3 linked regions of the Homo sapiens genome follow. The protein of the gene in region 2 purifies or fractionates together with the protein of the main gene of each other region. This does not show direct contact. Each region holds a gene or a part of one and is shown on either strand. Other genes may lie near its edges. The genes, in order: CHLSN, MYO3B and KL.

Evidence for each region.
Region 1: the proteins of MYO3B (region 2) and CHLSN purify together in Homo sapiens (affinity purification with mass spectrometry; one large-scale study listed by BioGRID and IntAct). This does not show direct contact.
Region 3: the proteins of MYO3B (region 2) and KL purify together in Homo sapiens (affinity purification with mass spectrometry; one large-scale study listed by BioGRID and IntAct). This does not show direct contact.

What each region holds. Positions count from the first base shown.
Region 1 is NC_000007.14:1,009,113-1,012,764, forward strand, and holds part of CHLSN (protein cholesin), read right to left. Parts: intron 1,189-3,652; exon of another isoform or gene 1,120-1,188; intron 1,032-1,119; coding exon 838-1,031; intron 1-837. UniProt on the Homo sapiens protein: Hormone secreted from the intestine in response to cholesterol, where it acts to inhibit cholesterol synthesis in the liver and VLDL secretion,leading to a reduction in circulating cholesterol levels. Acts through binding to its receptor, GPR146.
Region 2 is NC_000002.12:170,650,075-170,652,986, reverse strand, and holds part of MYO3B (myosin-IIIb), read right to left. Parts: intron 1,360-2,912; coding exon 1,253-1,359; intron 880-1,252; coding exon 833-879; intron 5-832; coding exon 1-4.
Region 3 is NC_000013.11:33,022,861-33,026,512, reverse strand, and holds part of KL (klotho precursor), read right to left. Parts: intron 1-3,652. UniProt on the Homo sapiens protein: May have weak glycosidase activity towards glucuronylated steroids. However, it lacks essential active site Glu residues at positions 239 and 872, suggesting it may be inactive as a glycosidase in vivo.

The sequences.
Region 1 (3,652 bases), on a different chromosome or scaffold from region 2:
CACAGCCACACTGGGGGTCATCTCTCCGAGGAGGTCATCTCTCCGAGGGCCTCCCACAGAGGTGCGGCTGGAGCCTGTCCTCCCAGGCAGGGCCAGTGCCCCCACAGGACACCCTGCCCCTCAGGGTGACTTCATCACAGGGACCCAGTTCTTGTCTCTGAGGAAGCCAGCCACGTGGACGCCGTGACACCCCTTATTCTAGGTGCAGTCAGCACTCAGGGAGACGGACAGGAACGGGCAGCAGCCTGTGCTGGTAAGCGCCGGGGAGGTGGCCACAGCCCGCAAGGCTGTGGAGCCCACGCCAAAGCCTCTGACCCCTGCAATCCTGCACCGTCCACCCAGCCACGCCGCAGGCACCATCCACCCAGCCACGCCGCAGGCAGCCAGGGAGATGGCACCCTGTGCCCAGCACCCCACAATCCCCGTCTTCCCGCTCTTGGGTGGCAGTGGCGCCTCCTGTCACTGTGAGTGAGGGCTGAAGGCCACCACGAGTTCCCTCCTCCTCACCCCCACGTCCAAGCAGCACCCAGGCCCGTGGATTCTTCCTGTGGTGACGTACACCTGGGGCAAGGTTCACCATCAGACCCATTTCTAAAAGCACAGTTCCAGGCAACCCCTGCACGGGCAGCGGCTCTGCTGCCGCCCCTGAAAGTTCCTGAAGGCTCTGGGCCATTCAGACAGAAAGGGCAGCGGCGGCAGCACAGGCCTGGCATGAACGCTCATACCTCACTGCTCTAGAACCTTCCACACAGTGTGTGCGAGTGAAGGCTTCGACCCCCTCAGGCAGGGGTTGAGACGCACGTCCGGGACAGAACCGCGTGGGGCAGGGCCGCTCACCTGCAGAGGTAGTCCAGGGCCAGTTCGGCCCCCGAGCGCCTGGCAGGCGGGTGCTGGGCCACAAGGCCTGCCTCCCGCAGACGCTGCCTCTCCTCTTTCTTCCGTTCCTTTTTCAGCTTCCTTTCCAGGACCCTCTGCTCCTCTGGGGACAGCTCTGGCTCTGCGTCCAGCCCGGGCCTGAGCACAGCTTCGCCCTGAAAGTCAAGGAACACATTAGGCTTCGGGGATGGAGGGTATCCAGAGACGGGTGCGCTGCCTGGGGCTTCCCGAGCCCACCCTCACCTCAGTAGTGGCCAAAAGCTCTGTCCCCAAGCACTGGGTCTGGCCCCAGCCGACACCATCCTGCTAAGCCTGTGCTACGACGAAGAGACAGACAGGTCACATGAGGATGGCCAGTCCTGCGGGCAGGCGCCAGGTGCCAGGATTAACTGCCCAGAGGCCCCTTCCCCACCCCCGTGGTCCACCTCCCACAGACTCCCGGCTCCCGAGGCTCTGTGAGGTCCTGCCCCACCCCACACAGTGTGGGAAGATCCGGGCCGGCCCCCAGGGAGGGCTGAAGGTGTGCTGGTGTCTGTTATCACACAGGCCAGGTGCTGGCCCCAGACCCGACCCAAATCCCGAGGACGGTGCCTGGGGCCTGCTGCTTTCTGGCAGGTCACTGGCTGCCTGGCTCCCCCTGGGCTGCAGGCTGGGGACAGGGAGGGGGCCAAGACCCCCAAGGGAGGGAGAGGGCCCGCTGTGACAATGTGTCCCCAGCCACATCTTGCCAGGAAAGCACAGGCCCTCCGTCTTGCCCACCCTCCCCTCATTAACAAAAGAAGAGGACGGTGCAAAGCGTCAAAGCCGGGGCAGCCGGGCCACGGGGTGACCATGAGGTGACCCCAGCCGCTGTCCACATGCTTCGTCTTTTTTGGAAAAGTCAGAACATCAGTGTAGACTCCGAGCAAGGCCAGGAGCCCAGGGAAACAGCTAGGGGCGTGGGAATCAACCAGGCAGCGCCCACCGGGAGCTTCCAGGAAGGGAGGCCGGGCACAGCCCACGCCTACGCATCCCACCCCAGGGAGAGCAAAGAAGAGTGAGGCAAGCCCCCCTACATACAGATATATATGCAACCCACCCCCCCGACACAGACACACACATTCACAGACTTCACCCCTACAGCCAAACACAGCCCCCAACCCTCACCCATGTACCCACACCGACCCACACCCACCCACACCCACCATACACCCACACTCACCCACCCACACCCACAGACACGGACACATACCCACACCCACAGACACCCACATACCCACCCACCCATACCCAACACACCCACACCCAGATACCCACACATAGACCAACACCCACACGCCCAGACACCCCCACATGCCACACACCCACATACAACCACACACACCGACACCCACACACATCCAACAAATCCACAGACACCCAGACACCCACAGATACCCAAACACCCACAGACACCCAGAAACACCCACACACCCAAACACGCCCACAGACACCCAGACACACCCACACCCAGACACACCTTCACACGCCCAGACACCCTGACACACCCACACCCAGACACCTGCAGACACCCACAAACACCCAGATACCCAAACACACCCAAACACATCCACACACCATCCCAACATACCCACAGCCACACACGCCCACACCCAGATACACACCCAGACACCCACAAACACCCAGATACCCAAACACACCCAGAGACACCCACAGATGCCCACACACCCAGACACCCACAGATACCCACACACGCCCACAGACACCCACAAACACCATACACACACGCCAACACACCCACAGCCACACCCCTAGAGCCTGCCAGGGGTCCGCAGCAAGAGACAGGGCCTGGGGGACGAGGAGCACCGTCCCTGGCAGATGCCTGGCACAGAGAGGCTGAAGAGTCCCGGTGGGAAGGCCTGGGCCGCCCACACACACAGGCAGGAAGCTCTGAGACCCACCAGGCCAGGCACGCAGGGCTCTGGGGAGCAAGATTTTCATGGTGGGGATGTGGACACCCCCAGGGGAGCCTGGTGACTGACCGGCTCCAACCAGCTCCATGCTCACCTCCTAGGCCCACAGCCGCCCACAGCCGCCAACGGGGCAGGCACAACAACTGGCCCTGAAAGGTAAAAACCCTCCTGGCACAGGCCCAGCCTCGGCCCCCACTCCATGGGCCACGCAGTCCACGGCTGATCACACGGGCCAAAGTCCATAACACTGTTAGGGCTGCACAGGGGCCGCCGCGGTGGCCGAGGGTCTGTCAGCCCACATGCGTGGGGCACCCGGACAGGCCCTGAGCAGGTGGGCAGGGCCCTGTGGTAGGGTCCCAGGTTGGTGGCCAGAGTGGTGAGGACGGGGCCAAGGCTGTGGGCAACAGCAACGTGGGCGCTGGCCTGGGGTGGATGGCGAGGGGAACCCAGGCCGTCCCATATCGGGGCCAAGCCGGGGACCCGCAGGCCCAGCTGTTTCCCGCAGGCTTCCTGAGCGCCCGGTGCAGGGCTGCTTCTTGTGTCAGGCACCAGCCTGGATGCTGCGGAAACAGCTTCCTTCACACCCACTCTTGCTTCTGGCCACCAGCGCTCCCGACCTGGCAGGAGTCACAGCCCAATTCCCGTGTCCCCGAGGGAGCCACTGTGGCCACGAGGTGGGAAGCTCAGGAGTGCCACCCACTGCCCTGGGCTGTGCCTGACACTGGCCGGTGCACCTTTAACTTTTCCAAACTCCTGCTTTCTGTGCTGGGCCTCAACAGAAGACGCAGGGGCAGCTGGAGTGAGGGTGCTGCGCCCGGAGAGCC
Region 2 (2,912 bases):
TTGGCTGCAACAAAGAAAACAACAGGATTTTCAACAAAAAATAAAACAAATGTTACAATCATCACTGGGGCAGCTAAAGTCATGTGAGTAGCTGGAACAGGGTTGGGCTCCAACACTGGAGGGGAAGGACAGCTCCTAGGTAGCTCAGGGTCTCCCAGTACAGAGGTACCAGGGTCTGATCTACAAAGCCCTTCACCTTTGGGTCGTGCACTGATAGTGGGTCCAGTTTTGTGGTGTCTGGAAGTTGTGGTCGTATTGCAACTTGCTTTATGGGATTGAACTCTGTCTCCATCTGGTTCCCTCTAGATGAGAAAGTTTTCCTCCTGACCTCCCCCAATTCTCTAATTATTACCATTATGTACTTCATTGCTGTTCTCAATTGAGATGCTAACTATCAAATGAACGACAAATTCCTTACTATCCTCTATCTAACCAGTTGGGCATGTTTCTCCTTGTCCATGTTTTTAAGGCCCAGGGGTAGGATAATGTGGAGGAAGTGGCCTATTTGTACTTCGTAGAGTGCTCTTATTTGTGGAAGGAGAATTTTATATAACCCACTACATGTCTCTAATTATGAAGAAAGTACAATTCCCTGGAATAATTATGAGAAATAACATTTGCCCTTAGGTGACAATTTCAACCTTTTTGGACAGAATAGATTCAAGTTTTGTATACTTGCTACTGTGAAAAGTAATTTCCAATGTCAATAAGAGTGGCAATATCTGGATTGCATATTTTTAGAAGCCTCTCTGGAAAGTTTTGCATTTTCTGTAATATCACAAAGGACCCCTTCTGTTTACAGTTGCTTAGAACTAAGAAGACAGATATTTACCCAAGTTTTCTTGGCTTCCTCTTGCTCCCTTGATATTCTAGAGTTCCCTGTGGAGAGGGCCAAGAACACACAGTCAAAGCAAAGCAGCAAGTCGTTAATTTTTAATTCAAAGTGATTTTGTGTTGAATGCAAGCAGATGCTGATAATATCAGAAGTCACAGCATAATTTTTTTTGATCAAAGGGCTCAAGTGAGCCTGATGAAGCATGCATCTTGCTCGTCTTTGATAAACCACATCAATTATTCACCGTGAAGGCAGACATCCTGACATGAAAGCAACAGATAAAGAGCCTAAGCACATGTTCAAGACGAGAGCATGAGGGTGGGGGTGGGGCTGCAGGGGCTGGAACAGGTAGTAATAACAGAATTATTAACTGGAAACAAAGCCAGTGAAACAGCTTTACGGCCACTTTGAACTCACATTTAACTGGTTATAGTACATGGTGTCCTCAGGGCTACTCAGCATTTTGGGCTGCTGACATCGTCGGCGAGGTGTTCGATGCTTCTGTGCAAGACCATTTTCTGAACCTGAAAAAAGAGCAAAACTTTGCTGTAAACTGTCCGAGGTGTTGGGAAAATTAAGTGAAAAATGGCTCTTCACATAAATGCACTTAGTAGAAACTGTGTCCTATTTTAATGGGCATATTAAAAGCTTTACTAATATTAGGAGAAATGCCATCCTAAAAAATACACACAGATTGCTAAGTGTAAACAAGGGCCACTGTCTGTAACTTTGCATTCAGCTTTCTGATCTGAATCAGCAGTCCAGGGTGACAGAAAGCAAGTTGTTGTTTCCACATTGGTGAAGTATAAGTTGGTGGTCAGCATTTATAGAGTAGGGTGCCCTTAGTGGCATGACTATGTTAGGACAACCAAAGTAATCTGGGATTGTTTGCACCACATCCTGCAATGAGAGTTCAAAAACATCTGGAGCACACATACTCTTGGGGAGGTGAGAAGCAAACCTTTTGGTGGGATACATTTTGTCGGGGGGGAAATGGCTTGAGCTAAAATTTACTGAAATGCTTTGAACAATACCACTGATGCATGCAGTCTTTGGAGGTAGTGTAAAAGAGAAGGAGAAAGGATGATTGCACGATTACATGAAGCAGTCTCTCCCTGTTTGTCCTGATTTCAGAACCCTGGACCAAGAGTGCCCTGGAGATTAAGAAACCACGAGTCAGAAGAAGTCATAATTCATGGCTGGGCGCAGTGGGAGGCTGAGGCGGGTGGATCATGAGGTCAGGAGTTCGAGACCAGCCTAGCCAACATGGTGAAACCCCGTCTCTACTAAAAATACAAAAATTAGCTGGGTGTGGAGGTGCACACCTGTGATCCCAGCTACTCGGGAGGCTGAGACAGGAGAATAGCTTGAACCCGGGAGGTGGAAGTTGCAGTGAGCCAAGATCGTGCCACTGCACTCCAGCCTGGGCAACAGGGCAAGACTCCATCTCAAAAAAAAAAAAAAAAAAAAAAAAAAAAAGTCATAATTCATTTCCCTTCCAAGCAAATGATTTTTTGGATCTACTGTCCTTTTGGCTCTATATCTGAATCAGGATTCAGCAGTTCTAATTTCTTGGCAACACACACACAGACACACACACCTCTGTCATAGAATATTGTCCATGAATGTTGTTGTTTAGAGAAAAGCTATCACTATCCTGGAGGACAGAGTGTTTATTATAAACTATTCATTAAAAAGAGTTGGAGATTTTACTTGGTATCATATTTTAACTTCACCAGAGATTTCCACGATTTAAAAAAATTCTGGGGGAATTTTTAAAGTAGAGAGTGACTTAGCAAGGTCCATTATTAATACCAAAATATTTGTTCCCTAAGTATAAAGTTTTGTATCTTGATTTTTCTTGAATTGGGACAAATCTATATTTGGACAAGACTATCAGAACCCAGCCTGGCCAACATGGTGAAACCCCATCTCTACTAAAAATACAAAAATTAGCTGGGCGTGGTGGCGGGCGCCTGTAGTCCCAGCTGCTTGAGAGGCTGAGGCAGGAGAATCACTTGAACCTGGGAGGCAGAGGTTGCAGTAAGCCAAGATTGCGCCACTGCACTCCAGTCTG
Region 3 (3,652 bases), on a different chromosome or scaffold from region 2:
GACTGAAGAGGTGCCTAGGTCCCTAGGAGCCAGGACCCTGCAATAACACAGAGGTATGACCCCCCCACCCCATTCTTCCCATTCAATATGAAAATGCATGTCCTCCAGCTATAGGAAATTTTCTGGAATTACTTCATTGTTTCCTTTCCTTTTACGTCAGTTACCTATTGCTGTGAAATAGACCGCCCCCAATTTGGAGAATTGAACTAATAAGAATTTATTTTTTTCCTCTTGCTTCTGTGAGTTAATGGGGTTTGGCTGGGCAAATCCAGTCTTGAGTATGCAGCCAGGGAAGGGACACTGCAAGGGAAAAGGCACTGGCAGGGAGAATGAAGGACAGAGGCTAGAGAGAGCCCAGTCCCACCCATGAACTATACAGTAATCTTTACATACTTTTTACATACTTATTCATACAGAAGAGACATAACATGGGCTGCCTTTTAATAATCATACATCAACATTTTAATAACCAATTAGTATTCCACTGTATAAGCGTACCAACATTCCTCTAACGGATTACCTTAACACATTTAGCTGATGTCCAGTTTTAAAGAATAAACCACCATCAGCGGTAAACTTCCTCTTATCTTTGCACATTGGAGATGAAATTTAATAAGATTGAAAGTTTGAAAATAAACTACCAAAGAGATGACAGGGATGTTTGGCTTCACAGCAATTCACAAGCTGGGGGGAAAAAACCTGAGAGGTTTTAGCTGACTGCAAACTAATTTGAGTCCGCGGTAAGGTGACAGCCAAAATTGTTAATGCAATCTTGGGCGGCATGAACAAAATTCAGTGTCTAACAAGAAATGTAATCGCTGAAGCCTACTCTGAACACCTGGGGCACTGCTTGGTTCTGCACAGCAAATGTTAAGAGAGGCCTTGGAAATTCCCAGGCTTTCTTCTTCAGCTCCTCATCCTTTCCCACCTGACGCTTCAGCCATTCAAAAGACCTCATGCTGTGGTGGGAATGGCCACACTGTCTCACCTGTACTGACTTTGCAAGGGATGTTTCCTAGAAAGGCACAATGCCCTTCTCACTTTGTGTGCCCAGCAAGCCAAGCCCAGCAGCAGGGCCCACTACCTATTTTTGTAAATAAAGTTTTATTGAAACACAGCTGTGCCCATTCATTAACACATTGCCCATGGCTGCATTCATGCTGCAACCACAGAACTGTGTAATAGTTGCAACAGACACTGTAGGATCTGCAAAGTCCAAAACTTAGCCCTCTACAGAAAAAGATTGCCAGCCTCTGATCTTACAAGTATTGCTTTCCCTGACTGCTCCCGTACTACCTCCCCAAAACGCTAACCTATCTCTCCTTTCTTGAAATAGGTTCCTAAGCAAGTACTTATTTCTCTTAAGGCATTTATACATTTTACTGTAATTATTTGACAATTACCTCTCCCCTACTAATCTGTGACATGAGGGCAGGAATCTTACCTTATCCCTCTTTTCTGACAGTGCAGAAACTTGGAAATGGCAGCTCTGGCCAGGAAGGAGTAAAAAGGCCCCCTAGGTTAGGAGCCCCCTCACAGCCCATGCCAGATAGATAGGAGAAAACTGAATCTCTCGTGCAGCCCAAGCAGTATACCTTTGGTGAGCAATGTCCACGCTGAGTTGTGTTTGACTGCAGACAATTTCTGGGAGAATGTAGTTGAGTCGGGAGTGAGACGCCCCTACCACTGTCCCCGCACCTGTGCAGGGCTGGCATAAAGGCCTGATGGGAACAAGGGGACACAGGTCTCTATGGAAGAACTTGGGACACCGAAGAGAGGAAAAGGCAGAGGAAAGAGGACCACATGATGAGAAATCAAAGAGAAGAGAGGACAGGCGGGGAAGAGCAGCATCCCCAAGAGGCTCTGACAGGGCAACGGGCTTGCCTCCCATGCCCCCATCCTCCCCTGCAGCTTTGCAGCCGTCCTCTGGACCCTCACGAAAAGAGCCCTACAAATATGCCTCCTTTGGGAGCCAGGGCTCTGGACTCTCTACAGGGTCCGGCACAGGGAGAACTCCAACCACTCGTCCTCAGTCCTCTGCACCCATCAGCAGGACAATGGTGATGGATGATGAGACAGAGGCAGGTCCCACAGACAACCCTAAACCCTCCCCGCTGGGGAGATAGGTCGACTTTCCCCTCTCCTCTCCTCCACCTTATCCTGAAACGTCAGAAGACAGAGCCACCTGTTCAAAGGTTACATTCATATTCTCAGAATTCAACATTGCACCTGCCTGCCACAGGGTAAGCTCTCAAGAAATGTTCCTGACTAAATGTCCAGTCACCTCCATGTCTTCTTGGAGCAGACATTAGCATGAAGGAGAAAATTCTAGGAAGAACAAAACGTACTGGTCTTTTCAAATATGTGAAAGATGTCTTTTCAAATATGTGAAAGATGTCTTGTCAAAAAGTGACTTGCTTTATTCTTTGAGATTTAGGAAGGCAAAGAGACAGTCACGGAGGAGTCCTGTGCAGCAGCAGGTTCAATATGAAAGAGAAAATCAAGGGGGCAACTTGAGTGGAACTGAGTTCCTCCTGCTTCAAAGGGTCAAGCAAAAGCTAGCTGACCCCAGGAGAGCCACTGTAAGGAGTTCGTCCTGGAGAGAAGTGTAACCTGGGATTTTCCAAATTCCTTCTGATTCTAACATTCTAATTATCAAATAAAATGCACTTATAGATATGGAAATAACATTTGCTTAACCATTATATTTAAAATTAATGTACATCACTGCTTTCAGTTTGAGTATTTTATCAAGCTATAATGATACCGGTTCATGGATGACGTGACATCTGTACTTCAAACAAAAAATGTTAATAAAAAAATCTATTGAAACTGGGGCCACAAAAGTTCAATCAATATTTATCTTTGGTTTAGTCAATATATAAAGTTATATCAGTCATAAACTTTAGTATGTATCTTTTTACCACCAAGCTGGATCCAGAAAGATATTTGATAATGTGTTTTATGTAAAAATACGTTATTTCAAAAATGATTTGATAGTTTTTGGTCAAATGCTATTGAAATAATTTCAAAGAAGAGGCAAATTAAGTAGTTAAGTGAGGCTACCATGTCTAATGCATTTGTATGATTCCTTCTAAACAGCTCAAGAGGACCATTTCTCAAGTATTTTGCTATTATTACTATTATTATTAATGATAAATTTATAGCTCACTTTTGTAGAGCTTTTTGTATTTTTTCAAAACACGTTGACATATATAAGGTGCTTTTAATTCTCACAATATGCCTGGGAGTTAGGCAATGTGGTAGAGCCTGCTGGTTATCCTAAATGATCTGTTCCCATCTGATTTCAACTTAATAGAATCATTCACTGAGCACCCGGCTCCTCAGGGGACAATTATTTGCAGACTCCTTTTGACCATGTGACTGAGTTCTGCCCAAGGGACAGTGATAGGTGCAGCTTCCAGGTCAGGCACTTGAGAGGCCACCTTTTCCCTCTTCCTCTCTTTTCCTGTCCACTGGATGAAATTGGGATATTATGTGCTCTGGAAATCAACAAAGGTCACATAACGTATCTGCCTAGGAAAATCTTTACTGTTCTTCCTCACTCTTTAAAACTCCTTCCCAGATATTGTGTGAGAGCAGACTGCAAGCGCAATATTCCATTTACAAGAAAGAATATGGACACGTTGAA